Homo sapiens: one gene and its partners. The protein of the gene in region 2 purifies or fractionates together with the protein of the main gene of each other region. This does not show direct contact. Each region holds a gene or a part of one and is shown on either strand. Other genes may lie near its edges. The genes, in order: CASP14, USP53, EXOSC10, U2SURP, YAE1, SPTBN2 and BLMH.

Evidence for each region.
Region 1: the proteins of USP53 (region 2) and CASP14 purify together in Homo sapiens (affinity purification with mass spectrometry; one large-scale study listed by BioGRID and IntAct). This does not show direct contact.
Region 3: the proteins of USP53 (region 2) and EXOSC10 purify together in Homo sapiens (affinity purification with mass spectrometry, with the first as the bait; one study listed by BioGRID). This does not show direct contact.
Region 4: the proteins of USP53 (region 2) and U2SURP purify together in Homo sapiens (affinity purification with mass spectrometry, with the first as the bait; one study listed by BioGRID). This does not show direct contact.
Region 5: the proteins of USP53 (region 2) and YAE1 purify together in Homo sapiens (affinity purification with mass spectrometry; one large-scale study listed by BioGRID and IntAct). This does not show direct contact.
Region 6: the proteins of USP53 (region 2) and SPTBN2 purify together in Homo sapiens (affinity purification with mass spectrometry, with the first as the bait; one study listed by BioGRID). This does not show direct contact.
Region 7: the proteins of USP53 (region 2) and BLMH purify together in Homo sapiens (affinity purification with mass spectrometry; one large-scale study listed by BioGRID and IntAct). This does not show direct contact.

What each region holds. Positions count from the first base shown.
Region 1 is NC_000019.10:15,051,763-15,055,760, forward strand, and holds part of CASP14 (caspase-14 precursor), read left to right. Parts: intron 1-443; 5' UTR 444-489; coding exon 490-516; intron 517-1,719; coding exon 1,720-1,869; intron 1,870-1,970; coding exon 1,971-2,196; intron 2,197-3,395; coding exon 3,396-3,512; intron 3,513-3,593; coding exon of another isoform or gene 3,594-3,667; coding exon 3,668-3,771; intron 3,772-3,998. UniProt on the Homo sapiens protein: Non-apoptotic caspase involved in epidermal differentiation. Is the predominant caspase in epidermal stratum corneum. Seems to play a role in keratinocyte differentiation and is required for cornification.
Region 2 is NC_000004.12:119,215,595-119,219,935, reverse strand, and holds part of USP53 (ubiquitin carboxyl-terminal hydrolase 53), read right to left. Parts: intron 2,387-4,341; 5' UTR 2,263-2,386; intron 1-2,262. UniProt on the Homo sapiens protein: Deubiquitinase that mediates 'Lys-63'-linked deubiquitination of tight junction proteins, such as MARVELD2 and LSR, and which is involved in the survival of auditory hair cells and hearing.
Region 3 is NC_000001.11:11,079,015-11,083,355, reverse strand, and holds part of EXOSC10 (exosome complex component 10), read left to right. Parts: intron 1-477; coding exon 478-668; intron 669-697; exon of another isoform or gene 698-822; intron 823-2,117; coding exon 2,118-2,274; intron 2,275-2,443; coding exon 2,444-2,592; intron 2,593-2,806; coding exon 2,807-2,857; intron 2,858-3,533; coding exon 3,534-3,645; intron 3,646-4,341. UniProt on the Homo sapiens protein: Catalytic component of the RNA exosome complex which has 3'->5' exoribonuclease activity and participates in a multitude of cellular RNA processing and degradation events.
Region 4 is NC_000003.12:143,032,346-143,036,686, forward strand, and holds part of U2SURP (U2 snRNP-associated SURP motif-containing protein), read left to right. Parts: intron 1-438; coding exon 439-601; intron 602-925; coding exon 926-1,005; intron 1,006-2,542; coding exon 2,543-2,630; intron 2,631-3,636; coding exon 3,637-3,759; intron 3,760-4,341.
Region 5 is NC_000007.14:39,569,215-39,574,033, reverse strand, and holds the end of YAE1 (protein YAE1 homolog), read right to left. Parts: intron 3,529-4,819; coding exon 3,407-3,528; intron 1,758-3,406; coding exon 1,328-1,757; 3' UTR 1,153-1,327; downstream 1-1,152. UniProt on the Homo sapiens protein: The complex LTO1:YAE1 functions as a target specific adapter that probably recruits apo-ABCE1 to the cytosolic iron-sulfur protein assembly (CIA) complex machinery. May be required for biogenesis of the large ribosomal subunit and initiation of translation.
Region 6 is NC_000011.10:66,687,090-66,691,430, reverse strand, and holds part of SPTBN2 (spectrin beta chain, non-erythrocytic 2), read left to right. Parts: coding exon 1-147; intron 148-1,147; coding exon 1,148-1,392; intron 1,393-1,487; coding exon 1,488-1,626; intron 1,627-2,250; coding exon 2,251-2,335; intron 2,336-2,581; coding exon 2,582-2,778; intron 2,779-3,119; coding exon 3,120-3,262; intron 3,263-3,351; coding exon 3,352-3,427; intron 3,428-3,512; coding exon 3,513-3,563; intron 3,564-3,783; coding exon 3,784-4,004; intron 4,005-4,263; coding exon 4,264-4,341. UniProt on the Homo sapiens protein: Probably plays an important role in neuronal membrane skeleton.
Region 7 is NC_000017.11:30,250,393-30,254,354, reverse strand, and holds part of BLMH (bleomycin hydrolase), read left to right. Parts: intron 1-2,121; exon of another isoform or gene 2,122-2,281; intron 2,282-3,948; exon of another isoform or gene 3,949-3,962. UniProt on the Homo sapiens protein: The normal physiological role of BLM hydrolase is unknown, but it catalyzes the inactivation of the antitumor drug BLM (a glycopeptide) by hydrolyzing the carboxamide bond of its B-aminoalaninamide moiety thus protecting normal and malignant cells from BLM toxicity.

The DNA of each region.
Region 1 (3,998 bases), on a different chromosome or scaffold from region 2:
CCTTTTAAACACTCCTCCAAGGCATCTCTTTGAGATGGCTTCCCCAGCCCGTCATCTCCTAGGTAGAAGAGGCAAACACATGGGTCACTTGCCCTGCTCCTCATTCCAGGGCTTTCAGGGGAAGTTCAGTCCACCAGAAGCTGGTGAATGACCCACGGGAGACACAGGAAGTTTTTGGGGGCGGAGTGGGGGACATTGTGGGGTAGGCTCAGCAGTTCTGAAGAAGACATCCAGAAATGGAAGACATCGTGAAATTGTCATTCTAGGGGTGATATATTACTACTTCATGGATTATCATCTATTGCCCAGATCTGTCCACAGACCAAATCCCCACCACTTGAGTGCTATTTGGTCTCAAAAATCCAGATACATAAGCCAGTTTGTCCCCTGAGCCCCTCGGCCTCCCTTTAGAGAACTTTAACCTATCTTCTCTTGACTCCAAGGATCAGACAAGGGTGCTGAGAGCCGGGACTCACAACCAAAGGAGAAATGAGCAATCCGCGGTCTTTGGAAGAGGTAGGCTGGGTGCAGGTTGAGGGGAGGGTGATCATCTGGGGAGAAGGAAGGTGAGGATTTTAATGTTTTGGAAAGAGTGGAGGGACTGAAAAAATCATGATCTGAACTCAGAGCTAGGAGGTACTTTGTAGTCAATCAAACAGCAAAAAAAGACTCAGAGATGGAACCGAAGTTGGGTTGGGTGGTGGGGGCAGTCAAACACAGCTACCTCTGTCTCCAAAGATCAAGTTCTTCTCAACACATTAAAGGTTCTGAGAAGTCCTGCAATAAACAATTTCATGTTGATTTTTTAAAAGATGAAGTTCTTACCACTGGGGTGCTCAGTACGCTGCTTCTGTTCTGGAAAGAACTGTTGACCCCCAATATTCTTCTTCCTCAGACGGGATCTCAGTATTAGCTTCAGAAACTCTGAGACCTCTGCAAGTGAGGAGGTAATAGAGGAATGCTCAGAACACTCTTGGGGAGGATGAGGAGACCTGCAAATCCACAAAATACGACAACTGGAAGGGATCTTCAAAATCACACACACACTCATTGTCTATATTTGGAAACTGAGGCTCAGATGGGAGCAGTGACTTCCCCCAAGTTCATACCAAGCTAGAAAAGAGCTGGACCCCAGGTTGGGTTGCTGTATTTGGGAACTAAAAATAAAGGACACCCAATTCAATTTGAATTTCACATCAACAACAAATAATTATGTAGTATAAGTATATCCCATGCAATATTTGGGATATACTTATACTAAAAAGGTATTTGGTTTTTATTTGAAATTTAAGTGTACCTGAGCATCTTCTATTATACCTGGCAACCCTAAGCCCAAGCCTCTCTTGTTTTGTTTGTTCATTTTTGAGACAGGGTCTCACTTATTGCCCAGGCTGGAGTGCAGTGACAAGATCATAGTTCACTGCAGCCTCAACTTCCCAGGCTCAAGCTATCCTCCCACTTCAGCCTCCAAAGTAGCTGGGACCACAGATGCACAGCAGCACACCCAGCTATATTTTTCATTTTTTGTAGAGACAGAGTCTCACTATGTTGCCCAGGCTGGTCTCGAACTCTTGGGCTCAAGCAATCCTCCCACCTCGGCCTCCCAAAGTGCTGGGATCACAGGCATGAGCCACCACACCCAGCCTGCATGCCTCTTTTGACTACATCTGCTTCTCCTTGAACCTCTCCATGCTGATTTCTGTCTTCTCTTGGCCCCAGGAGAAATATGATATGTCAGGTGCCCGCCTGGCCCTAATACTGTGTGTCACCAAAGCCCGGGAAGGTTCCGAAGAAGACCTGGATGCTCTGGAACACATGTTTCGGCAGCTGAGATTCGAAAGCACCATGAAAAGAGACCCCACTGCCGAGGTATTGGGGTGCCTACTCCAGGCCTGTTTGGGGGAAAGGTACTAGGTTGGAAGTGTAGGCTATGGGGACCCAGCTGAGTCTGGTTCTTCCTCTCACTCCAGCAATTCCAGGAAGAGCTGGAAAAATTCCAGCAGGCCATCGATTCCCGGGAAGATCCCGTCAGTTGTGCCTTCGTGGTACTCATGGCTCACGGGAGGGAAGGCTTCCTCAAGGGAGAAGATGGGGAGATGGTCAAGCTGGAGAATCTCTTCGAGGCCCTGAACAACAAGAACTGCCAGGCCCTGCGAGCTAAGCCCAAGGTGTACATCATACAGGCCTGTCGAGGAGGTGGGGACAGATCCAAGAGCACAGAGTCTGTGGTTTGTTGTTTCTGTTTTGTTTTTTGAGACAGCACCCAGGCTGGAATGCAGTGGCGGAATCTCAACTCACTGCAATCTCCATCTCCCAGGCTCCAGCCGTCCTCCTGCCTCAGCCTCCTGAGTAGCTGAGACTACAGGCTCCCGCCACTATGTCAGGCTAATTTTTGTAGACAGGGTCTGATTATGTTGCCCAGGCTGGTCTCAAACTCCTGAGCTCAAGCAATCCTCCTGCCTCAGCCTCCCACCATGCCCAACCAAGTCTGTGTTTTTATCCAAGCCAGTCCCAGATCCAAAGCCCCAGCTGAAGCCAGGCACCATGGCTCATGCCTGTAATTCCAGTACTTTGGGAGGCCCAGGCGGGAAGATTTTTTGAGGCCAGGAGTTCAAGACTAGCGTCGAGCAATGTAACAAGAACCCAGCTCTATGAAAAATATTAAAGATTAGCCAAGGGCATGGTGGCATGGGCCTGTGGTCCTAGCTACTCAGGAGGCTGAAGTAGGAGGATCACTTGAGCCCAGGAGTTAAGAGGCTGCAGTGAGCTATGATTACACCATTGCACTCCAGCCTGGGCAACAAAGCAAGCCCCTGTCTCTAAAAAGTTAAATTAAATTAAAAAGCCCCACTGCACATGGCATACCACAAAAGCATCCTTTTTTTTTTTTTTTTTTTAGACGGAGTCTTGCTCTGTCACCCAGGCTGGAGTGCGATGGCACAATCTTGGCTCACTGCAACCCCCACCTCCCAGGTTCAAGCAATTCTTCTGCCTCAGCCTCCCAAGTAGCTGGGATTACAGGTGCAAGCCACCATGCCTGGCTAATTTTTGTATTTTTAGTAGAGATGGGATTTGACCATGTTGGTCAGGCTGGTCTCAAACTCCTGACCTCAGGTGATCTGCCTTCCTCAGCCTCCCAAAGTGCTGGGATTACAGGTGTGAGCCACCGTGCCCAGCCCTTACCTTTCTTTTTAAGAGGCGACATCTCGCTCTGTCTCCCAGGCTAGAGTGTAGTGGTGCAATCATGGCTCACTGCAGCCTCAAGCTCCCAGGTTCAAGTGATCCTCCTGCTTCAGCCCCCCAAAACACTGGGAATACAGGTGTGAGCCACCCTGCCCAGCCCCTTTCCTTACCTTTCTCTCTGACTTTGCCTCCTCCTCTTCTTGTTGTTTCAGAACAAAGGGACCCCGGTGAAACAGTAGGTGGAGATGAGATTGTGATGGTCATCAAAGACAGCCCACAAACCATCCCAACATACACAGATGCCTTGCACGTTTATTCCACGGTAGAGGGTATGAGCTCCCAGCTGGCCCAGGGATCCCTCTGCTCTTCCCCCTCTCCTGCCACTCCCAACTCCTGAACCTCTCCTCCAGGACCCACGCCCTTCCAGGATCCCCTCTACCTACCCTCTGAAGCTCCCCCGAACCCACCTCTCTGGAATTCCCAGGATACATCGCCTACCGACATGATCAGAAAGGCTCATGCTTTATCCAGACCCTGGTGGATGTGTTCACGAAGAGGAAAGGACATATCTTGGAACTTCTGACAGAGGTGAGTTGACAAAAGGTAGCTGGGACCACCGCCCAGGCCAAGAAGGGTGCAGGCGGAGGGGGCTGAGCCTCCTCCTAACCCCTCTCCATTTCCCTCAGCTCCAAATCCAAGCCAGATCTCAATACAGAAACTAAGAAGCCCACTTTCCAACAACTTTCCCAAATGCAGGGACTCTTAAAAGCCACAGTATGGGAGATAAATTTCTATAAACAAATCCCCCTTGGATA
Region 2 (4,341 bases):
AAAGAGAGAGAGACAGAAAGAAAAGAAAAGAAAGGAAATAAGTCACTGCTGTTTTCTTATGAGTCAGTGCTTTACCAGCAATAATTTTATCCTAAAAGGCAAGATTCCAGGGCCACTCTCCTTCATTACCCTAGACAAGACTATCAAACTATCTTTTCTCCTTCCAAAACTTAAGCCCAATACATAATTAGTTAGGTAATCTTCACCATGCTATATAAATTATTTAACAGGTGTTTTCCCCCAAAAGGGGATGACACTATATGGAATTTGTTCAAATTCTAACATCCAATAACTTTATCAGGCTACTAGAATGGTCTGGGTAAATGATAATGGCATCTTAAACCTGATTCATTATACCTATTATGGGTTGAATTGTGTCTCCCAAAAACATATGTCCAAGTCCCAGACCTATGAATGTCAATGTATTTGGCAACAGGGTATTTGAAAATGTTATCAGATTAAGATGAGGTCACTGGGGTGGACCCTAATCCAATGTGACTGGTAGCAGTCATTATAAGAAGAGAAAGAGAGAGAATGATGACAGAGGCAGAGGCTGGAAGGATGAAGCTGCAAGTCAAGGAACACCAAAGATGAACAGCCACTGCCAGAAGTTAGGAAGGGGCAAGGAAAGATTCTATTCAGAGCCCTCAGTTGGAACCAATCCTGCTGACACCTGGATTTTGGACTTCTAGTTCCAGAACTGTGAGAGAATAAATTTCTGTCATTTAAGCCACCCAGTTTGTGGTTCTTTGTTACAACAGCCCTAGGAAACTAATATAATAGTTGATAAAGCCATGAGACTCTTTGTTCTTTTATGTGTATGGATTTTTTTGATTATCAAACAGTACTTGTTCATTAGATTTCTGAAATACCACAGAAATACTACATAAAGAAAATTAGAAATATCCATAATTCCATATTAGCACAGAATCACTGCAAATATGTTCTTAATAGTACACAGTCCTAGCCATCAAACTGTAAAGTAAAACTTCATATTAACATCTTTTCACTAACAATATAGCACCTCAAAGATACACTGAGGACTTTCTGATGATATGCTACAACTGCTCATCTTACTAGAAGTATTTAAGATTTTATTTTAGATAACTAGATAGCAAACAGAAGAGTTATACCAAGTTGAAGTAATACAAAAAAACTCTTCATCTTCAAGTAGATAGTGTCAGAAAAAAGAAAAAATATATCTTTCATTACAGAAGTAACTGTGTTTATAAAGCTAAAGGATTATAGTAAGGAAGGTATAATTGAAGAATAAATATTCTTTGATGTGTAAAACCATTGTCACTCTAGAAATGGAGGAATTAGAGAAGACTACAGTAGAAAATTTATAAAACACAGAAAATAAAATTAATAAGAAAAAAGACTATAATACTGCCAACAAAAAAACAGTAAGTTTTAAGTAATTTTCAATGTTTCCACTTTTTTGCTCTATTTCTTTGTGTCTAACAAAAAACCGTGCTATATTTCATGTTGCTTTTACCTATTCACTAGTTTCCACTAGTAACTAACTAGCAAAAGACAAGCATACACATGTATCCAGAATATAGGACATGGTCATTAAAGAAAATGGCTTACAGCAGTCTACTTTTAAGACATGATCTCCAGAAGAAAATTATGTCAAGCCAGCAATAACCTAACATTTATTTGCCTTGACAAAGCCCCAGACTGAACTCTTACTTTATCTATACCTTCCTCCCCATCTCAGCCAATGGCAACTTTATCTTTCCAGTTGCTGAGAACAAATATCTTGATGTCATCTTTGACTCCTTTTTCTGTCATATTTCAGGATCTGACCACTTTTCACCACCTCCACTTCAACAATTCTAGTCTTGGCCATCATCACATCTTGTGTGGATTAAAAAAATAGCAGCTTGTCTCCTGGCTTCTACCCTTTACACAGTAACATATAAGTCTATTCTGGAGAGCAGACAGAGATCTTTCTAAAATTAAATCATAATGTCACTATCTGCCCAGCCCCTCATCTAACTACTTGACCTTTGGCTTTCCCATTCCAGCCACATCAGCCTCCTTCTCATTCCTGCACACTATACAAACTTCTGTTCTCTATATTGTTTGCACTGGCCATTCCCCTGCCTGGAATACATTCCCCCCATAACGCCCACATGGCTTTGCCCTCCCTCCCTTCATAATTGCTTTGCCAAAAAAGTCACTTAAATGAGGCCTACACTTATTTAAAATTGCAAACCATCACAATCTCTACCACGCTTTCCAAATTCCTCTTACCTTGTTCTACTTTTTCATTCCTCCTTGGCACTTTTCTCCTTCTAAATATATTATAGAATTGACTGCTTATTCTTTATTGTCTCTTCTCCAAATCCACTTAGAATGTAAAGCAAATCCCAAGCATCTAGAACAGAACACAGTGCATGGTTAAGTTTTCATCAAATATTTATTAAAGGAAGCTCAGGAAACAAAGTAAAATCTCAAACAACAAACCCTTTGGAAAAAACAGTGTTCCTAACAAAGACAACCTAGGCACTAAAGTATAGGACAATTTCCTACCATCTGGCAGGTAGGTCAGTGTCAGTACTACACTGACAAAGGAGGAGCATTATCTCATGCCTATATGGTAGCATCATATAGGAGGAAAAATTTAGGGCTCAATCTGCTCACCTAAGTATGGGGAGGGGCACCATGAGAGGGGCAACAGTTTATTATGCAGGCTGAGGAGTTAAGAAAAAGCCAAAGAATGAGGTATCTGATGGGCAAAGAATACCCTGATGGCTTCTTGACAAGGATGGAATCCATACCCTGATAGTGACCTTATAATTCCCATAGATATTTTATTCCTCCTCTGATATAAAGTTTACAACACATTGCTCAACTACTCAATCATTAAAAATCTATCAGTTTCATCATCTATAATCAAAATCATAGGGCTACTGTGAGAATCATAAACCATGTATAAAATACCTAATAAATGGCCAAAACATAGGCATTCAACGAATGCAGGCTAATTATAATAACATTATCTTCCACGTAAAATGATTTTTAACAATGTCAACAAGGATTTAGAAAAAAGCAGACGCTGTATTATATATTTTATACTCCATTTTGCTATCTTTAAGGAAATACCTTAAACTGATATATTAAACTTAACCATTGCTTTAATTCAGATTAATGAGATCAGATAAATTGTTCAATGAAATATCAATTTCTTAATTTTAAAATTTTAGTAGCTGTTCTTAGTAAATCATAAGCAATTTTGTTACGGAGCTATCCTAGTTTAAGAATATCTAGCATATGAAAAACCTAATTTATAAAATGAATGTTTGGGAATACTTCACATTATAAGTGGATTTTCACCACAGAATTGTTGTAAATATTCATTTACAAAACCTTTCTGGACTAGAAAGGAGAGAAGGAGAAAATGAGTTAAAATGTTAACAGCCAATGGATCAGAAAGAAAGATAAAGTGACTGAAGTAAGTGTCAGCAACAGAGACTTGATTTAGAAATTTTCAACCAAAGTATAAGTTTTCAGAAAAATAACTACTTAATGATTTTTTTTTTTTTTTAGACAGAGTCTCACTCGGTCGCCCAGGATGTAGAGCAACGGCACAATCTCAGCTAACTGCAACCTCCGCCTCTTGGGTTCAAGTGATTCTCCTGCCTCAGCCTCCTTAGTAGCTGGGACCACAGGTGTGCACCACCACGCCTGGCTAATTTTTGTATTTTTTAGTACAGATAGGGTTTCACCATGTTGGCCAGGGTGGTCTCAATCTCCTGGCCTCAAGTGATCCGCCTGCCTCAGCCTCCCAAAGTGCTAGGATTACAGGCGTGAGCCACAGCACCCAGCCAACATTGTCTAATTAACTTTTGACTTTCTAGTGTTTAGCACTATGCCTAGCATACAATAGGAGGTCAATAATGTTTATTCAATACTTCTAACTCAGAAAAGCGCAGCAGTAAAAAACTTCCAAAGGAAGGGTATTTCTTAAAACTTCTTTTTTGTAATATGTGTAAAATTGAAAACTAATGTTATCTTCAAATTAATTCAAAAATACCATGACACCTCAAATAACTGATTTTGTTCATAAAAATAGCTAAGATATTGGAATAAGGTTTATTTTGCAGAAAAAATTCTGATGAACTGCAGAGTATATGAAGCAACTCTTCTGAAGTCTCATGTAAAATCATAATTCTTTAGCCAGATGCAATGGTTTGTAGCCTTTTCTTGTATCATGGACATCTTTGGTGGCCTAATGAAGCCCCCTATGAATAATGTTTGTAAATGAACAAAATAAAATTCATAGCATAAAAAAAAGAAAAAGAAAAAAAAATACTAAGATCACAAAGAAAA
Region 3 (4,341 bases), on a different chromosome or scaffold from region 2:
TCCTGACCTCAAGCAATCCACCCACCTTGGCCCAAAGTGCTGGGATTACAGGCGTGATCCACCATGCCCAGCTGCATATATCTAATCTTGATTAGAACATTGGCTTCAGCCAGGTGAGGTGGCTCAGGCCTGTAATCCCAGCATTTTGGGGAGCTGAGGCAGGAGGATCACTTGAGCCCAGGAGATTGAGACCAGCCTGGGGAACATAGTGAAACCCCGTCTCTACAAAAAATACCAAAGTTTAGCTGGGCGTGGTGGCACGCTGTAGTCCCAACTACTTGGGAGGCTGAGGTGGGAGGATTGCTGGAGCATGGGAGGCGGAAGTTGCAGTGAGCCAAGATCACACCACTGCACTACAGATGGGACAGCGGAGACTACCTTCTAATTTCAGTGTTCTAATAAACTAGAGGCAGAGTTAATTTCTGAGCATGAGTGGCCTGCTACCAGTGTACTGCATGACTTTGGTTCTGTTTTCAGGTCTTTCATGGTGCTGATTCAGACATAGAATGGCTACAGAAAGACTTTGGGTTGTATGTAGTAAACATGTTTGATACTCATCAGGCAGCACGCCTTCTTAACCTGGGCAGGCACTCACTCGATCATCTCCTGAAACTCTACTGCAACGTGGACTCAAACAAGCAATATCAGCTGGCTGATTGGAGAATACGGTCAGTTTGCTCTTACTGAGGAAATGTGGGTGGCAGAAGAAAGTGATTATTCATTAACCTGTCGTCCAGAGAGACCTGGGTTTGAGCCCTACCACGCTCATTGAGATGAATGGCATCAGGCTTTTCGCCAGGCATCTTCAGCAGCGTAAAAGTGGTAGGAAATTTTTTAATGCTAAGGTGGACTTTATGATGGGCTGATGCAGTTACACTGTGTTCCATGGAAATAGTGGTTGAAAAAGAGGTGCCGCACCAGTATTTGCCCATGCTGGTCTTTTGTTTGAAACTGGGATCTTTCTACCAGATGATTTTGTGTGTGTGTAAGATCTTCTGTAGGGATGATTGTGTGTGTGTGTGTGTGTGCAAGATGACCTTCCATAGGTGGGAAAGAATTCTAAGGGACACTGTTGTTTAGCTTTACACTGAGCGTTTTTTTGTGGCATAAGGTAGCAGTTTTGCCCCACTTCCTGCAGGCCTTGCTCAGCTTGGTCGTTTTCCGCTTGGTTGCTACCTCTCCGAGGTTGCACCTGTCATAGGAAGGTGCTACTGAGCTTTTTCAGGAATTCCACATGCCAGAATGCCAGAATTTCTTTTTTTCTTTTTTTTTTTTTGAGATGCAGTTTCACTGTTGCCCAGGCTGGAGTGCAATGGCGCGATCTCGGCTCACCACAACCTCTGCCTCCCGGGTTCAAGCAATTCTCCTGCCTCAGCCTCCTGAGTAGCTAGGATTACAGGCGTGCACCACCACGCCCAGCTAATTTTGTATTTCCAGTAGAGACGAGGTTTCTCCATGTTGGTCAGACTGGTCTCAAACTCCTGACCTCAGGTGATCCTCCCGCCTCCGCCTCCCAAAGTGCTGGGATTACAGGCGTGAGCCACCGCGCCTGGCCCAGAATGCCAGAATTTCTAAATATAAAAGTAAAATTACATTTGGACTGATAAAATCCAAATAAAAGATAAAAATTGATAAAATCTAAAAACCACTCCCTGTTACGGAGCCCTTACCCTGTGCCAAGCTCTGGGCTAAGTGCTTCAAGGATGTGGTCCTGTGTAGTCCTCACAACAGCCTATGAAGTACCTGGTTCCCATTTCACAAGTTAGGTGGGTCAGCCCAAAGAGGTTAAGGAACTTGTCCAAGGACAGACATCTGGAGCTGAGATTTGAACTCAGGACACCAGTGGCCCCTTTTCTACTGCCTCTTGTGTGTGTCCAGAGTAGCTGACAGTGCCCTTATTTTAACCACCGCATTACCCTGCCTCCAATTCTACCCAGCTGTTAAAATAATGGTTTATCATGTTAAAATGCAGGAAATGTTGGCATAACTGCAGTATTGACTATGAAAGGATCTTTCATATTGGAAGGGTCTAAGGAAGTCCCAGCACCCAAGGAATAGACAAATTGAATTGCTGTCCTTGGGGGCAATCAGTAAAACATTGTCCTCTGCAATTCCAGCCCTCTGCCCGAGGAGATGCTCAGCTACGCCCGGGATGACACCCATTACCTGCTATATATCTATGACAAAATGAGGCTGGAGATGTGGGAGCGCGGCAACGGGCAGCCGGTGCAGCTGCAGGTGGTGTGGCAACGGAGCAGGGACATCTGCCTCAAGGTACACCTCAGCCGCAGTCACACAGACCGCGACACTTGGGCTCTGTGTCTGGCCAGGTTCTAGTTCTTAGGTTTGCTCCTTACATTCATGAAAAGAGCCAAACATTTTCCAGAGCCCAGGGCACAATTTTGATTCCCGTTGATTTTGAATGTTCTCTAATACTTTGTAGAAATTCATCAAACCTATCTTCACGGATGAGTCCTACCTTGAACTCTATAGGAAGCAGAAGAAGCACCTTAACACACAGCAGTTGACAGCCTTTCAGCTGCTGTTTGCCTGGAGGGATAAAACAGCTCGCAGGGAAGATGAAAGTTACGGGTAAGGGATTAGAGGTTCTTTTAATACTTGTTTCCAGACTGAGGAGATCTAATAACAAGTAAATAATGGGCTTTTTTCTTTTGCTATGAAAGCTGGTTATTTCCCCTATGTGACAGCATCTAATGGAACTTACTGGCTGAATGTAATGTGTCCCCACCGTGTGTGTGTGTGTGTGTGTGTGTGTGTGTGTGTGTGTGTGTTTTTTTTTTTCCAGATATGTACTGCCAAACCACATGATGCTGAAAATAGCTGAAGAACTGCCTAAGTGAGTTTCAAATCTGATTAATATGTTCTGACTTTCTCAGTAGATCTGATGTTCTTCAAAATCAAGCTTTTCTGGTTGCTATTACCCAAGGCTGCTTACTCAGAGATTAATGCTCCAAGCTTGGAAGGTAGCAAGTTGAAGGAATATAGAATTTCTGCCCTCAGGCTGCCATTTAAGCACTAAAACTTCTGAACTGGAATCATTTCAATGATTATGCCTTAGTTTGAGTTTATTTTAAGTCTCTGAGCCTTATAGCATCTACTTGCAAGGGAAGAAAATGTCCCAGATTCTGTCATCTGTACTTTCTTCCAAATTAAAGCAGCTCATGATCTTAAACGTTTTGTGATCTTGATTGAAGTATAAGCAAGAATGAAAATCCACAGCCCGTTGGTTGCCCCCTGCGGAATTGAGAATCCACAGTGCTATGGCACTTACTTTCAGCTCTCCCTGATTGTGGGAGTCAGGCTCCAAGAGGGATCCACTTAAAGCTTGGTGTCGCAAAGAACACATGGAGAAGTTGGCCTAGGCTGGCCTGACATCAGTGTTTCCTTAGTCACCTACCTGTAGCTTCAGCTTAGGTGGCAGCCTGGCTTTACCCAGTCATTATTCTTATCTGGAAGCCTTTAAGGGCTGCGTTTCTGAGTGACAAGTTGAGTGTGTTCTTACTTGTCTTCAGGGAACCTCAGGGCATCATAGCTTGCTGCAACCCAGTACCGCCCCTTGTGCGGCAGCAGATCAACGAAATGCACCTTTTAATCCAGCAGGCCCGAGAGATGCCCCTGCTCAAGGTAAGAAGCTTTTCTGCGGCTGGGCACAGTGGCTCACGCCTATAATCTCAGCACTTTGGGAGGCTGAGGTGGCTGGATCATTTCAGGTCAGGAGTTCGAGACCAGCCTGGCCAACATGGTGAAACCCCGTCTCTACTAAAAATACAAAAAATTAGCCAGGCGTGTGGTGCACGCCTGTAATCCCAGCTACTCCGGAGGCTGAGGCAGGAGAATTGCTTGAATCCGGGAGGCGGAGGTTGCAGTGAGCCGAGATCGCGCCACTGCACTCTAGCCTGGGAGGCAGAGCGAGACTCCGTCTCAAAAAAAAAAAAAAAGATTTTCTACTGAAGGGTCCCAACTTAGCAAGCCTGTTTTTTTTTTGTTTGTTTGTTTTTTGTTTTTTTTAGACGGAGTCTCGCTCTGTCTCCAGGCTGGAGTGCAGTGGCATGATCTCGGCTCACTGCAACCTCCGCCTCCTGGATTCAAGCAGTTCTCCTGACTCAACCTCCTGAGTCGCTGGGATTACAGGCATGCACCACCACGCCTGGCTAATTTTGTATTTTTAGTAGAGGCGGGGTTTCACCATGTTGGCCAGGCTGGTCTCGAACTCCTGACCTCAGGTGATCCACCACCTGGGCCTCCCAAAGTGCTGGGATTACAGGCGTGAGCCATCATGCCCAACTTTAGCAGGCCTGTTTTTTCTGCTAGTGTCTTATT
Region 4 (4,341 bases), on a different chromosome or scaffold from region 2:
CAGGCATGAGCCACCGCACCCAGCCAGTCTTTTCCTTTACAGAAAAAATTAGCCTGTCGTAATCCCAGGCAGAAGTGTTAAAGTAATAGACTTCCTTCAAAGAAGGGGAGTAAAGAACATGAAAGTTCTTCAGTATCATGGGATGGTAAGACTGGGGTGCTCTTAAAGACGCTTGAAGAAATGCGTATGATTTTAAATTTACTTAATTTGTAAGCTGAAAACATAATTGGAATCTTATTCTACAGAGTATTCTTATATAAATTCTTCAAAAAATTGTAACAATTTTGGGGGACACAACACAAATCAGACTGAATGTATTACAGTCTTCAGAATTATTTTATGTGAGTAGGTTTTAAAGAAATTAGTTTGTGAGCAAAAGCTACAATGGCATTTGAAATTGTATCTAAATATTTATAAGTTAAAACAATTTATGTTCAGACAGAGGGATAAATTGGAAGAAATCTTGCGGGGATTAACTCCAAGGAAAAATGATATTGGAGATGCAATGGTTTTCTGTCTTAATAATGCTGAAGCTGCTGAAGAAATAGTGGATTGCATTACTGAGTCGTTGTCCATCTTAAAGACACCCCTTCCTAAAAAGGTATGGGAATGAATTTTAAGAAAAGGGGAGATAGTTGACGTCTTTTGGGATTAGAATTGGTTTCCTTTTTGCACAAAGCACTTGACTGATGAGATTTTTCCCATGCAGTCTTATGTTATTTCTGCTTGGAAATTTAGGTTCATTAACATACAAGTTAACAAACAAGTTGAAATGTAAATGGGTTAACAAATTTCATCTCTGCCAGAGTCATAGTTGTGGTGATACTGAGCTTCATATAACTCTTCTAATTAGTAGCCATAATTAAATTATAGCTAAACATTAGCCTTATATTAACCTATTTTGTGTTATCTTTTGATATTATAGATTGCCAGATTATATTTGGTTTCTGATGTTTTGTACAACTCTTCAGCCAAAGTTGCTAATGCTTCATATTATAGAAAATTGTAAGTATAATGATATAACTGATATTCCTGAAATAAAGTATTTAAGGGTAAGGAGTTCAGAAAAGAGGATTGTTTTGTTAACATCCTGCAAGAATAAGAAGTACAGTCAGCCCTCCATGTCTGTGGGTTCCTTATCCATGAATTCAACCAACCATGAATTGAAAATATTTGAGAAGAAAAATTGTATCTGTACCGAACCTGTACAGACTTTTTTCCTTGTCATTTTCTAAACAATATAGTATGAAAACTCTACATAGCATTTACATTGTATTAGGTATTGTAAGTAACCTAGAGATGATTTAACAGATGGGAGGATGAGGATAGGTTACAGGTGAATATTATGCCATTTTCAATCAGGAACTTGAGCATCTGTGGATTTTGGTGTCCATGGGAGGTCTTGGAACCAGTCCCCCCATGGATACTGAGGGAAGACTAATTTGAATTTCTTAATGGTTTGTAGAATTTTTTAAAAAATTGGCTTACACTTAAGCTAAATTACCAATTTTTTGGAAAGATTTTATATCATATCACTTTCTTAGCTATTGACAGTATAACAAATAGGTGTTAAAGAGAACTTTATTGCATATCTAGCTATTCATATAATAAATAGAAACAGTGTATATACTGGCAAACATAAGAGACCAAAGACATACTATTAACTATAGAATCTGTGTTCTCTTCTGATCCTCAGCATATTGATTTTAGTTCATTGTAAATGTTTCCTAAGGCAAAAGGAAGTTACGTTGCTGTATTATAATTAATGTATAATTCAGCTGGGCACAGTGGCTCACGCCTGTAATCTCAGCACTTTGGGAGGCCAAGAAGGGCTGATTACCTGAGGTCAGAAGTTCGAGACCACCCTGGCCAACGTGGTGAAACCCCATCTCTAGTAAAAATACAAAGATTAGCTGGGCGTGGTGGTGTGCCTCTGTAATCCCAGCTACTCGGGAAGCTGAGGCAGGAGAATCGCTTGAACCCGGGAGGCGGAGGTTGCAGTGAGCCGAGATGGCACCATTGTCCTCTAGCTTGGGTGACGAGCAAAACTCCATCTCAAAAAAAAAAAAGTATAACTTTTCCTCTGTTCCCCAGAGCTCTCTTTCTGTGTTTATTTTATGAATTAGGCAAAGGGAAGCTTTTCCCTAGGATGTTGCTCTGAAAAGAAATTTAGAGAGCTGGATCCTACTCTTAGGTCTGCTATTAGTTTTTTTGCCTTGGACGAGTCACTTTTCTAAGTTTTCTGTTTTATAAAATAAAGAAATTGGACGAGATGGTTCAGCATATCCTAGATATAACGTTTCTTGCTCGTAAAGGGAACTAGTAGGGACTGTTGGGGAGTTTGTAGGAGAAAAATTCAGAGTAATAAGAGTTCAAGCAATTCAGTTACGGTTTTAGAGTTTAAACACCTAGTTTTTGATTTTTAATAATTTCTTGATTTGTAAGTATTTTAAGTTCAGGAGGGGTTTTCATTGGCTGGCATGCTAAAAGGGAAAGGAATTTTAAACATTTTATTTTAAAGAATGTGTTATTTGAATTTCAGTTTTGAAACAAAGTTATGTCAGATATTTTCAGACCTCAATGCCACCTATCGTACAATTCAAGGCCATTTACAATCTGAAAACTTTAAGGTACGTTTATTGTTTTACTATTTTTGCCCTAGTGTTTTAAATGGGTGGGGGGAGGGCATTGAAGGGCTAGAAAAGTGCATAAGACAAGTATGAGACATAAATTTAAAACTTAGATGTTACAGAAGTTACTGTTTTAAAATTCTGTCGTTTTTGTTTTTATCAAATCAAAAATTTAAAAGATACTATTTTGTCAGGTTTAATTTTAGTTTTAAATATTGTTTAAAAATTATAAATGTTAGTCTTTTTTCATAAAACATACAGAAGAATCACTTGTTTTGTAATGGTATATACTATTTGGCTGGATTAAAGACATACATTTTAATCATGTTTAGAAAGTCTATTCTGTTACCAATTTTTTTATAACCTCTTAAGCTCTAGACCAGTGTTAAGAAAAGCCAAGTGTAGTACTTCACTTATAATTGAATAAGTAAATATGCTTTCATGGGAAGAAGACTTTTTTAAGAAAAATTTTTAGTTTCGGAAGATGCCCAGTGACGCCACCATTTAGGGCATTCAGACAACTCCCATTTTAAAAGTTTTTGACCTTAAATTTTGACCATAAGTTAGAATTTAAAGACAAGTTTCAGGAAGATACAGAGTAAAGTATTAGCCAGAATTAGGAAGTACTTTATTGGACCATAAGGGATTCAGGTCAAAACTTGGCTACTTTGGTTTCCAGTTTTAGTAAGTTTCTATGTAAGTGTTTCTGGAATGTGGCTCATGGGTAGTACTAATGGTATGGGAGCTGACCTTAGGTGGTAAAGAGCAAATAGTTACTGTTTATTTTTCATTATATTTATTTTTAGGGGTTTTTTTCCTTTTAATTAGAAGGTGACATTGATTTTTTTAAAAAATATGGTAATGATATATAGTTATTTTCTTTAAAGTTTAAAAAAACATCAGTTTAAAGGCAAATTTAGCAAATCTTGATGATCATTCTCATGAACTGAAATTTGAGACATATAGCCCAAAATAAAAGTTTGTTGTCTGTTTCCTGTTTCTTTAGCAACGGGTAATGACTTGCTTCAGAGCATGGGAAGATTGGGCAATTTATCCAGAACCATTTTTGATCAAACTACAAAATATTTTCTTAGGACTTGTAAATATTATTGAAGAAAAGGAAACAGAGGTAGGCAGTCTGTATTTGTCTGGTTGTTTTTAAAATTCGTTTCTGGGGTGGAGGTTTCTTGGAGTTGTTCTGTGTTACATATGTGAGGTACATTTCTTTGTGAAAAATATCTATTGCTTACCATTAAGTAGTGGATTTTTATTGCTGGAACCCAGAAGTCAAAATTACATGTAACAGGAATTCTCTGTCTTGTGTCCTTATGTGAAAATTGGTGAGTGTTTTTTTTATTTAATGATATAAGAGTTATGATATATTGTTAATAGTAGAAAATAAGCAAGTAATAGAGCAATATGTATAGCATGACTTTATTTTGTTAAAGATAGCTATATAAGTAAAATATGTGCATGAAAAGATGCATCACATGATAGCAGATATACATCACCATTCTGTTGTTTTTTTTCTTTTTTACCTCCTAAATAATTACTGAATCCTTAATGTTTAATTCTGCCATGCTAGTCAAGCTATTATGTTTTCACTTTCACTCCTGCAGGATCTTCCTAATTGGCCTTACTGTTGCAACCCACGTGGTCCTTGTTTCAGTTTCTTAAATGTGTGTTTCCACCTACCATTGGACTTTGTACA
Region 5 (4,819 bases), on a different chromosome or scaffold from region 2:
AAGACTTTAGAGGCTGCTTATAATACCCATATTCCATGTGGAGTTGAGATTTGGGCTGTGTCCATAAACATGGAAACATATATTAACAAGACAAACTAGTAAATCTCTGAAAAACAGTCTTCACACCTGGAGAGATCGAAGAGCTTTTTTTAGCCAGCTGTCAAATGGCACTGGTATCTTCAGCGGGGGTTTTAATAAATCCTGAAACTCAATATGGCTTTCTGATTTTAAATCTGTTGCTTCAATTTCTTAATGTTCTTCTGTGAACTTTGAGGAGGGTCATAGTACAGTGTACATTTTTAATCTCTTGAAAAGATATACTTTGTCAGATTCTTCATCTCAATATGCCTGTCTTTCAGCTTAGATGGTAGGTATAAATAGGGGTGAAAGAGCAATTAAGGCTACCAATGAGGGACAATTATTTCAGTGCCTTTGAAGTCAGGTATCTCATATAAACTTGTGTTTCAGGTGAATAAAAGTGCTGAGAAATCCTCTCCTGATTCTGAGTTTAGATCCTGGAGTAAAAATTTGAATCTAATTTTGTCCATGCTAGACTAAGAATATTACCTCAAGGTAATATAGAAGTCAGTGGTTTCAGTGTTTTACTCCTATGTGAATATGAAATATACTGCAGTTTAAAATAATCTGGCACACTGTTAGGCAATATTACTAACTCCTTACTACTTAGAAAAACTAAGTAGGCATTTTCCTTAGACTTTAGCATAAAATATATTTTCTATGTTTTTCATAAAACTGAATGTCCTTACTTTTAATTAACACAAAACTAAAACACATTTTAGTATTTTGCTGTTAACCATTTAATCAACAGCATAAACACTGCTTCAGTTTCTCACAGTCTCTTAATTTCAATATATATCTACATATCTATATCTATATATCTGTCTGTGTGTCTATATTTACGTTAACTATTAAGTTATTTTTATAACTTTGGTTTGGTGAGGTCCTGACCACCTAATAGTGACAGGAGGTAGAAGTAGGGGTAGGTCCTTACAAAATATGTTTAATTCTTGTTCACTTTTGCTAATGAGTCTGAAAACACTTCATTTTGACCACAAGTTTGGAAATGTCAATGACAGTAGAAATTTCTGACCATATCTTAAAACTACATAAAAATTACCAGTGACAAAGAAAAAAGGCTTATATTACATTTAATAGTGTTAATTTTGAAGACAATAGTGTTAATTTCAAACTTCCATAAAGGGTAACCCTACAGTTGAGGTGTTTGATGCAGAAACCAGTACAAATTTCGATTGTTAGGAAACCAAATGTTCTGAACATTATTTTCATTAGAAAAGGGAAGGTAATTTTATAGTTGTTTGAGGTGTTGTAATACATCTACTGATAGGCCCAGCTGTTTAACTAAACTGGCTGTCTGTTCCAAAATCCATGTGGGGCTTGGGTTTTCTGAATGTGCATGCTCCTGTGTTCTACAACATTCTACATATGAACAATCTATCCCACTATGGCTCTTGCTACAGTTTTTGTTAAACTCAGCATTATTTTCACAGAGTCTTTCATCTTTAGCTTCATCAATCTTTTTCTCAGCTGGAACTACATGACAAAGGTCCATATCCTCAATGGAGTCCAATAAATCTACAACATGGGACGGTGGAGTGATTGATTTCAGATGTTTGAGCACATACTCTTCACACTGGCCAACTGCATCCAGAAGATTGTTTATTTTATTGATCAAAGTTGAATTATTATTATGAAGGTGACACCAGGAGAGCAAAGCACTGAACAAAAGTATAAACAAGGGTTAAATAGCAAAATAGGACTTAAAAATATAAGACTATCTTTCAATAACAATTAAACGATTGGACTTAATCATAAAACTGTTTATAATTCATAACCCCTCTTTCATAACTCTATATACGCTTTTCCTGATTTTATATTTTTCTCTTATGACTATGTAATATCTGTTGAAGATGAATACAACTCCGAGAAAGAAAAATTAGTTTCTTCTTTAAGGACATTAAACAGCTTCTTAACTAGCAATTCTCAATCATGGATGCACATTAGAATCACCTGAAGAGCTCTGACCCCTATCAAGGCCCAGATTATACTCCACACCAATTAAATCAGAATCTCAGGGGGTATCTTTTTTTTAAGTTTCAGAGTTAAGGTGCAACCAAAGTTGAAAACCATCGTTCTAAGCACATAGTTGCTTGCCATCAAGAATGAAGGTTAGAGAAAAGAAGTTTTCAAGAGACTTCACTTTCCTGGGCTTATGTCACAGAGTAGAAACTGTTTGCTGAACTACTAACAATTTCCTTGAAAAAGGTAAAAATTCTTCTAGTCCTAACAGATTTAATATTATAGTCATGTCATAAAATAATGATTATTATGAAAAGTATTTAAAAATAGAATCCATTGATATAAAAGATTCAGCAGTAGCTTTCTAAGGTTATGTAACATCAACTTGATGATGTGAATATTCACATTGTTTTCCTACTGTAGCAGACTAAATTCTGGTTCCTAATAGTTGGATTTTCTAAAATCCCAAATACAATAAATTTTTCGGTTTGTTTTGGTAACTTTTATCATCTACTCTTCTTTAAAATTAGCGATTCTTTGAAGCATTTTTTTTTTCTCTACCAAGGACAGTGTAAAGGGTATAAAGCAGGGGTGTCCAATCTTTTGGCTTTCCTGGGCCACATTGGAAGAACTGTCTTGGGCCACACATAAAATACATTAACACTAATGATAGCTGATGAGTTAAAAAAAAAAAAAAAAGAAAAAAGAAAAAATATCATGAAAAAAATTTCATAATGCTCATATTGTTTTAAGAAAGTTTATGAATTTGTGTTGGGCCATATTCAAAGCCGTCCTGGGCCACATGTGATATGCAGGCCACTGGTTGGACAAGCTTGGTATAGAGCATCAAACTGGACAAGGCTGCTAGGCTCCTGGCTCTGTGTATCATTTGACCATTTGGCTCCGATATATGCCATTATTGCAATGGCATCCTGACAAGTATTCAATGTTCAGGACTAAAGTAAATTAAATCAATTTTATCTTAATTACCAACTATTTTCATCATGTACTTCTAGTCTAGAGGTCTGTCATACTGTGTGGAAGTACTACAAGTTTTATTCAAAATCTGAAGACCTTTCAATGAGATAGATAATTGTTCAGGTAGCAGAAGTATACATCTTCTTACCATTTCTTTGCACGAAAAGACAATATGTAGTTCACACATTAAAGTAGATGAGCTGATAAAGATTTTGACTTTTTGAAGGCAATATAATTCTATGATCTGCGACACGCTTTAGTGTATTTAGCACCAGGAAAAGCATTTCAGTTTAAACACTTTATTTATACAGAAACATCCTCCAGTAGTATTGAGGTTAAAATGATTCAGCATTTAGACTTTAAAAATTACCTCAATGTTCCTCGGAGTCGTCCATAGTTTAAAATGACTTCTGCACCTTTCTTATAACCTTGATTGAAGCCCTGTTGAAGAGTAACTGCTTTGCCAGCATCTATTCCATCTCTATAACCTTCCTAAAAATAAGTAATGGAGAAGTGCAGCTGTAACTAAGTATATACATGTAGGCTTTTCTAGAAAAGTACAGAACCAATTTAGAAAGCAGATGAATTAGGCCTTTACTGTGTTACTGACCATAATATGGCATAACAATATAACTAAAGCAGACTATGCTTCTCCTAAGTTTATTATTGGTTTATCATTACTTATCCCACTTTTGAAGTCTAGAGTTACCGGGCAATTTTTAAAACACTGATAGTCACAGTTTTTAAAAAACCTAGTGTTGGGCCGCCACGCTTGCTGTGAGGTGGGCAAGCGGCAGACATGGCACCCTCCAGGAGTCTTGCAGTTCCGCTGGCAGTCCTGGTACTGTTGCTTGGGGGTGCTCCCTGGACCCACAGGCGGCAGAGCAACGTACGCATCATCACAGACAAGAACTGGAGAGAGCTGCTGGAAGGAGGCTGGATGATACAATTTTATGCCCCGTGGTGCCCTGCTTGTCAAAACCATTAACCGGAATGGGAAAGTTTTGCTGAATGGGGAGAAGATCTGAGGTTAATGTTGTGAAAGTAGATGTCACAGAGCAGCCAGGACTGACTGGACAGTTTACAATAACTGTTCTTCCTACTATTTATCATTGTAAAGATGGTGAATTTAGGCATCCTCAGGGTCCAAGGACTCAGAAGGACTTCATAAACTTTATAAGTGATAAAGAGTGGAAGAGTATTGAACCCGTTTCATCATGGTTTGTTTCAGGTTCTGTTCAGATGAGTAGTACGTCAGCACTCTTTCAGCTATCTACGTGGATCAGGACTTGCCATAACTACTTTATTGAAGACATTGGATTGCCAGTGTGGGGATCATATGCTGTTTTTCCTTTAGCAACTCTGCATTCTGGACTGTTACTAGGACTCTGTATGATATTTGTGGCAGGTTGCCTTTGTCCTTCAGAAAGGCACACACCACAGCCATACCCTTCAAAAAAATTATCAGAATCTGCTCAACCTTTGAAAAAACTGGAGGAAGAACAAGAGGCGGATAAAGAAGATGTTTCAGAAGAAGAAGCCAAAAGTAAAGAAGGAACAAAGACTTTCCACAGAATGCCATAACACAACACTCTCTGGGTCCATCACTGGTCACAGATAAATTGTATAGTTATCTTAATATCATGATTTTGATAAAAACAGAAGACTGATTATTTCTTTTGGTTTGAAGTGAACTGTGACTTGCTTGTATATTACAGCATTCAGTCTAGATTGTCATTAAATTGAAGACTCTACATTCAGAACATAAAAGCACTAGGTATGT
Region 6 (4,341 bases), on a different chromosome or scaffold from region 2:
CTGCACGGGGCACGCCAAGCCCTGGCGCGGGTGCAGCACAAGCAGCAGCAGCTTCCGGACGGGACTGGCCGCGACCTCAACGCTGCCGAGGCCCTGCAGCGCCGACACTGTGCCTACGAGCATGACATTCAGGCCCTCAGCCCCCAGGTCTGACCCAAGCATGAGGAGGTGGGGGAGGCTTAGAGGAGGCCATGGGGGAAATGCCGGGGAGAGTTCCCAGGAGCTAGGGTAGAGCTCAGAAATGCTGGGAGGACGGCACTCTTTCGAGGGCCATTTCGAGATGAGGAAATTGCTCCAAGAAAACATCTCTGTTTGGCCAGGCGCGGTGGCTCTCGCCTGTAATCCCAGCACTTTGGGAGGCCGAGGAGGGCGGATCATCTGAGATTGGGAGTTCGAGACCAGCCTGACCAACATGGAGAAACCCCTTCTCTACTAAAAATACAAAATTAGCCAGGCATGGTGGCGCATGCCTGTAATCCTAGCTACTCAGGAGGCTGAGGCAGGAGAATCACTTGAACCCAGGAGGCGGAGGTTGCAGTGAGCTGAGATCCCTCCACTGCACTCCAGCCTGGGCAACAAGAGCGAAACTCCGTCTCAAAAAGAAAGAAAACATCTCTGGCAGGGGACATCTAGCCACTGCATTCACACTTTTGATGACAAGCCCCCTTGAGAGCCCATGATGTCTTCAGGGGTTCCCAGTGGCCAGGAGACTCTTCATGCTGCGCTAAATCAGCCTGTTAGTGCTTCCCAGGCTTGAGCTCTAGGCTCACACTCAGTAAGCATGGATCCTTCCTTCAACCACTAGAACCCATCAGCCCCTGCCTGAATCCCCTTTTCAGGCTAAGTAGCACGTTCTAGCAATCTCCAAGGTCTATCACATCCTAGACAGGCCTCTGAAAGTTCAACTGGCCAATGGCTCTTTTCCAGATCCTCCCCCAGTTAAGCCCAGGTGTCTAGATGAGACCCAACAGGGCAGAGTGTGGCCAGCCCCTGCCTTCATCTTTCCCAGCACCCCCACTCCCTGGCTCCTCCCCCTGCTTCTTTGGCTGTGAGACAGGCAGGAGGTGAGAGTGGCAGCCAGGACTGAGGCAGGCTGCGGCTCCTTGGAGTCCCCCGCTCTGCCTGACTCTGACCCGGGGCTCCGCAGGTCCAGCAGGTGCAGGACGACGGCCACCGGCTCCAGAAGGCCTACGCTGGAGACAAGGCTGAGGAGATCGGCCGCCACATGCAGGCCGTGGCCGAGGCCTGGGCCCAGCTTCAGGGAAGCTCTGCCGCCCGCCGGCAGCTGCTGCTGGACACCACAGACAAGTTCCGCTTCTTCAAGGCTGTCCGGGAACTGATGCTCTGGATGGATGAGGTCAACCTGCAGATGGATGCCCAGGAGCGTCCCCGGTGAGAATCCCAGGGCTCAGGGCCTCCACGGGTTGTGTGGCTGGGCTGTGATGGGGCTGTGGGCAGCAGGTGATGCTGTTTCTGCCTCCCCCCAGGGATGTGTCCTCCGCGGATCTAGTCATCAAGAACCAGCAAGGCATCAAGGCAGAGATAGAGGCCCGGGCAGACCGCTTCTCCTCCTGCATCGACATGGGGAAGGAGCTGCTGGCCAGGAGCCACTATGCGGCCGAGGAGGTGGGTGAGGCCTGGGTGGCCGGGCCATTCTCACTGTGCAGTGCTGAACGCTGACTTCTTGGTGGCTTTCTGCTTCCTCTCATTCTCTCTTTGCAAGAAACCTTTCATTCTCTCCCCTCAGTGCCATTCACGGGTTTCTCGCATTCTGGAAATCTCTCCCCAGAACCGTCTGCCTCTTGACATCAGAAATCACTGGTCCTGGGCCAGGCATGGTGGCTCACGCCTGTAATCCCAGCACTTTGGGAGGCCCAGGCGGGCAGATCACCTGAGGTCACGAGTTCGAGACCAGCCTGGCCTCCATGGGTTGTGTGGCTGGGCTGTGATGAAACATGGTGAAACCCCGTTTCCACTAAAAACACAAAAATTAGCCGGGCGTGGTGGCGGGCACCTGTAATCCCAGCTACTCGGAGGCTGAGGCAGGAGAATTGCTTGAACCTGGGAGGTGGAGGTTGCAGTGAGCTGAGATTGCGCCACTGCATTCCAGCCTTGGTGATAAGAGCGAAACTCCGTCTCAAAAAAAAGAAAGAAAGAAAGAAATCACCTGTCCCCCTGGATGACTCCCCAGGGGCCGTGGAAAGATCTCACATCCTGGTGCTAACTCATATCTCTGCCCCCCGCCCCCAGATCTCAGAGAAGCTGTCTCAGCTGCAGGCACGGCGCCAGGAGACAGCTGAGAAGTGGCAGGAGAAGATGGACTGGCTTCAGCTGGGTGAGCTGCCAAGGGGGCCCCAGGCCCTGTGGGGAGTGGGGGGCATCCTGCACCCTGTGGGTTCCAGAGTAGGTGAGACTAGGAACCCTGGGTGTGAAACTCACGATGCCCAATCTTCGTGCTGCCTGGCACAGCTCTGGGGCAGTGGCTTTCTCTGTGTCCCTGTTCTTGAGGTTGCCATGGCCACTGTGCCCTGCCAGTGGCCACTCTGACCCACCATCTTCCTGCAACCCCCGATCCTGCCAGTTTTGGAGGTGCTTGTGTTTGGAAGAGATGCAGGGATGGCAGAGGCCTGGCTCTGCAGCCAGGAGCCACTGGTGCGCAGCGCTGAGCTGGGTTGCACGGTCGACGAAGTTGAGAGCCTCATCAAGCGGCACGAGGCCTTCCAGAAGTCAGCAGTGGCCTGGGAGGAGCGATTCTGTGCGCTGGAGAAGCTTACTGCGGTGAGGGACACAGGACCCCGGATGCCCACTCCAACCTGCTCCCCTGACCTGTGCTGGCTTCTGCTTGGAGAAGACATGTCTTCTCTCTTCCCACTGCACCAGTGGCCCCCAGATGTGAGCTGAGAGTGCCATTGTCACCACACCTTTAGGAGGTGTCAGTTCCCCTGGGTGATGCCGAGACACCTTCTCCCGCTTTGTTTCTTGTCCCCACCATCTTCTCAAATTCTGTTCTCCTCTTATCATATTTCATCAAATTAGAGTTGAGACATTTCAGCTCTCCCTGTTTCCCTGGCCCTCTTACACGCAACCTTCTACACGCTGAATGCAGCATTTTTTGACAGCTAGAGGAGCGGGAGAAGGAGCGAAAGAGAAAGAGGGAGGAGGAGGAGCGGCGGAAACAGCCGCCTGCTCCCGAACCCACAGCCAGTGTGCCTCCAGGGGACCTGGTGGGCGGCCAGACAGCTTCTGACACCACCTGGGACGGGTGAGAGCCAGGATGCCTGGGTAGGAGGAGGCGGCTGAGCCCAGGCCACCCAGGGACTAATGATTCTGTGTTGCCTTTGGTCATCCCAGAACCCAGCCACGGCCACCACCATCCACACAAGCACCCAGTGTTAATGGAGTCTGCACAGATGGAGAGCCCTCACAGGTGACCCCACTGTCCCTCTGTGCCCCCATCGGAGTCGTAGCCCCTCCACCCCCGCACATCCTTTTACAGATTCTTGTCCTTGCAGCCCCTGCTGGGACAACAGAGACTTGAGCACAGCAGCTTCCCCGAAGGGCCGGTGAGTTCCCCTGCAAGTGTGGTGTTGATAACTGTGAGGCGAAGGGTCCAGAGGGGGTGGTGAGTGCGGGTGGGGGAGTACTGGGGATGGGATGGGAGAGGGCAGAGGCTCACAGGCAGCTTGGGGGCAGGAAGACCAACTCCTGGACACGGAGCTTCCTGGCACCCAGGTTAGGGATCTCCCGTCTCAACCTTTGACACTGACACTGATTCCCCCCCAGGGACCTGGCTCAGGGGACGAAGCCAATGGGCCCCGGGGAGAGAGGCAGACCCGGACTCGGGGCCCGGCCCCATCTGCAATGCCCCAGAGCAGGTCTACCGAGTCAGCCCATGCTGCCACCCTGCCGCCTCGAGGCCCAGAGCCATCTGCCCAGGAGCAGATGGAGGGGATGCTGTGCCGCAAGCAGGAGATGGAGGCCTTCGGGAAGAAGGCTGCCAACAGGTACAGCCTCTCTGGAGCCTGCTCTCAGAGGGCACTTCCCCAGAGCCTCTGCCCAGATAGAGGGAGGGATGCCCTTTAGAGTACATCTTCTGGGCAAAGGGTAGGACTTGGGACCAGAGCGGGGCCTCAGGGGAGGACCAGAGGGTGTGAAGACCGTGGCCTAAAGATGGGAGCAGAACTGGAAGTCCTAGGACACCCAAGAGGGCTCCAGGTTGCGGGCGCCACTGAGGCCGGCCAGTCAGCACCGCGTCCCTCGCAGGTCCTGGCAGAACGTGTACTGTGTCCTGCGGCGTGGGAGCCTCGGCTTTTACAAGGATGCCAAGGCAGCCAGCGCGGG
Region 7 (3,962 bases), on a different chromosome or scaffold from region 2:
TGCCAGGTGAAAGATTGGCAGTGACTGAATGAGGCCTTGGTAGTCCAGCTTCTTAGTTCCATGCTGCCAGACAGACCGTCAGAGCAGAACAGATACCTTCATTTTGTCATAACTTTTTTAAAAATGGCAAAAAATAATAGCCACATACAGTTTGTTAGTGAGGTGAAATTCCTCATAGAACAAAGACAACAAAGAATATAAAATGTTTCTAATATGTTAAAATATATTTTATATTCTTTGTATTCTTTAGTCTGAAAGGCTTAAATCTTACATTTCTGGTGGGATTTCAGAAAAAAAAGTTTTCTTAGGTAAAGCGTCTTTTTTCCCTTAAACTAGCCCATTTGAAACTCTTCTGTTTCTGAATGAATTTCACCTAACCTGTCTACAGCTATATTCACAGACACTGTTTTTCCCTTTACAGACTGACCCTACCCTTTCTGTTACAAAATACAGAAACGTTGCCAGTGTTTTTTGGTTGGTTGGTTGGTTTGAGGTGTTTTGTTTTGAGGACTGTTCACTTTTCTTTCTTTCTCATCGCATGTAAACAAGACATTAAAGTTTAAACAAAATTTAATTTCACCTTAGTTCCTAAAGCTGACTTTATCTATTTGTCTGTGTTTCACTCAGTGTAACCTTGGGATCCCTGGAGCAGGTTTTTATTTTGTTTTCTTTTCTTTTTTCCTTGGAATGCTTGTGTCTCACGGCCAGTGTGTCTAAGGGTTAGGAGCTGCACCTTCCCGCAAGTCAAAAGGGCCAGCCGAATCCTGCCTGAGCCGGTGCTTTGCTGCTTCCTACACAGGTTTCAGACACACTGATCCTAATCTTCTCAGTCAAACTCCAAGACACACAGTGTCAACAGTTACGGCAGCCACAAGTTCATTATCTACATAGGGCGCAATTACTTGGCAGCTACCTAGACTGTGAGGTTTTTGTGGGTCCCCAAAGAACTCATATCCTGAAGAGAGAGACTAATCAAGGCGGGTCCTCTTGGCAGGGACATTGAAAGGGTGGGTTACAATTGATAGGAATTTTAATTTGTGAGGACTTAATCTGATATGCTTTTGGAACAAGATAGTGTAGATGTACTTATTGTCCATCTTCTGGGAGCATTCTTTGAAGATTCATTTGATTGTATGGTGATAGTATTGTTGAAAGGACACAGAATTTTATTACATGAATCTGCTTCTATCCTTCACCTGCCTAACTGCCCAGGGCCACTGCAGTGATTTATTCAGCCTGCATTGTGGTGAGGGAAGGGACGACTAATGTCTCAAACAGTGTGGTGTTCCCTAGTCTGCTCTCCTGCTTGCTGAAAGCTCCTTTTTGGGAAGGCAGATGCTTAGTTTTTCAGGAAGCACTCACTTAGGATGCAGTATTTTAGTTTTAAATAATACGCACTGGTTGACCTTTGAGCGGACAGAACTTTTGTTGCTAGAACCTGGTGGCACTGGTGTGGGTGATGTTAATTAAGGGCCAGGTCCTGACACCAACAAAGCCAGGAAGTTTGGAATATATAATCAAGACAAGCCAGAAGTAGCTACAGAGTGGGCCTGTACTGTCCTTCCGTCTCTCGTCTATTGAAAGTAGGGGCCCTGGATCCAGGAGGCCAGCTTATCAGGAGACAAGAGTGCATTCCTTTACCTGCCTTGGTCGGAGCACTTGAACACTTTTACAGAGCACTCCCAACCCCTACCATTCCCACCCCCAAGACAGGGTCTCACTCTGTTTAGGCTAGAGTGCAGTGGTGTGATCTTGGCTCACTGAAACCACAGGCTCAGGCCACCACACCAGCTAATTTTTTTTTTTTTTTTTTTTTTTTTTGTGAGGATGGGGTTTCGCCATGTTGCCCAGGCTGGTCTTGAACAACTGGGCTCAAGCAATCCACCTGCCTCGGCCTCCTAAAGTGCTGAAATTATAGGTGTGAGCCACTGCACCTGGCCTCCACAGTGTTTTTGAGGGTAAACGTATGCTATGCCACGTCAGGATGATCTGTCTTTGACTTCTGTCGGGTGAAAAACAGGATTGGGCATAGATGACTTCACCAAATCAATTGTGTTTTCAGGTTAAATAATGCCCTTTGTCACACCTTTTAGCATACAAAATTAGACTTACCAGTATTGTTGCCTTTAAATTTAATCCAGTCTTGCCTCAAGAGCAGCAGTTCTCAAAGTGTGATCTTTGGTTCCCTAGGGCCCTTTCAGGGAGTGTGCAGGGTCTGCCCTTGAGCAACATATCTGTGTGAGGCTGGATTTCCTTCATCTGCTTCAAGCAGAACAACATACTGCAACAGATTAAACACAGATGCAGATACAGGAATTCAGCTGTCTTCTGCAAATCTAGACATTAAAATGTAAAACAATGCCACTTTTTTAACTAAAAATATTTTTTTACATAATATAATTTTTTTCCTCAAAATATATTGTTTATATTCATTTTTCATACTTATTTTTAAATGAATTAATATTTTTAACTTTCTGTTTTAGTTTCTGATATAGTAAATAATGATAGATATTAGTCCACATAAAGAATGTTTTCGGTCCCTAATAATTTTAAGAATGTAAAGGGCAGGGCTTGAGGCCAAGAGGCTTGAGAACTGCTCACTAGGGGACCCTCTTGCTAGAAACACCTACTTCTCCGTTCTCTTGGTCCTGTGTAGTGGGAAATGGTATAGCACAGGCCTAGGTTTATGAGAACTGCTCACTAGGGGACCCTCTTGCTAGAAACACCTACTTCTCCGTTCTCTTGGTCCTGTGTAGTGGGAAATGGTATAGCACAGGCCTAGGTTTATACAAACTTTCAGAGAAAAATGGCTCCAGTGTTTACTATAAAACAAGTAGCAGATACGGTCAGATGACAGTCGTGGTGCTGATGGCCATTGCTAGTCCGGGAGCCCTTGGATGTGTGTGCCTGCCTTTCTCTTGATTCAGTACACATCGTTTGCTCTGTGTTCTGTCTGTGGCCCAGCAGCCCATTCTTGTTTTAAATATACGGACTTCAGTCTCTCACTTTAATTTTGCTCTTCTTATTAGCAATGGCTCGGGTAAAGCATTTTTTTCCCATTTAAGTTTTTTGGAGATCTGTTCCTGAAAGAACAGATTTGTTTGTTTTTGTTTTTTTAACTTTCAGTAGTTTTTGGGGAACAGGTGGGTTTTGGTTACATGGATAAGTTCTTTAGTGGTGATTTCTGGGACTTTGGTGCACCCAGCACCTAAGCAGTGTACACTGGTATGTTGTCTTTGTTTTATCCCTCCACCCCTCCCACTCTTCCATCCTGAGTGCCCAAAGTCCATTATATCATTCTTATGCCTTTGCATCCTCATAGTTTAGCTCCAACTTATATAAGTGAGAACATATGATATTTGGTTTTCCATTCCTGAGTTACTTCATTTAGAATCATGGCCTCCAGCTCCATCGAAGTTGCTACAAAATACATTATTTTTTTCCTTTTTATGGCCGAGTATAATATTCCATGATGTATAAATATCACATTTTCTTTATCCACTCGTTGGTTGATGGGCACTTAGGTTGGTTCCATGTTTTTGTAGTTGTGAATTGTGCTGCTATAAGCATGCGTGTGCATGTGTCTTTTTCATTTAGTGACCTCTTTTCCTTTGGGTAGATACCCAGTAGAGGGATTGCTGGATCGAATGGTAGATCGTTAGTTCTTTAAGGAATCTCCATACCGTTTTCCTTAGTGGTTGTACTAGTTTATATTCCCACCAGCATTGTAAAAGTGTTCCCTTTTCACCACATCCACACCAACATCTGTAATTTTTTTGCTTTTTAATTATGGCCATTCTTGCAGGAGTAAGGTGGTATCACATTGTGGTTTTAATTTGCATTTCTCTGATAATTAGTGATGTTGAGCATTTTTTCATGTTTGTTGGCTGTGTATCTTCTTTTTCAGATTGTCTATTCATGTCCTTTGCCCATTTTTTGATGGGATTATTTGGTTTTTTGTT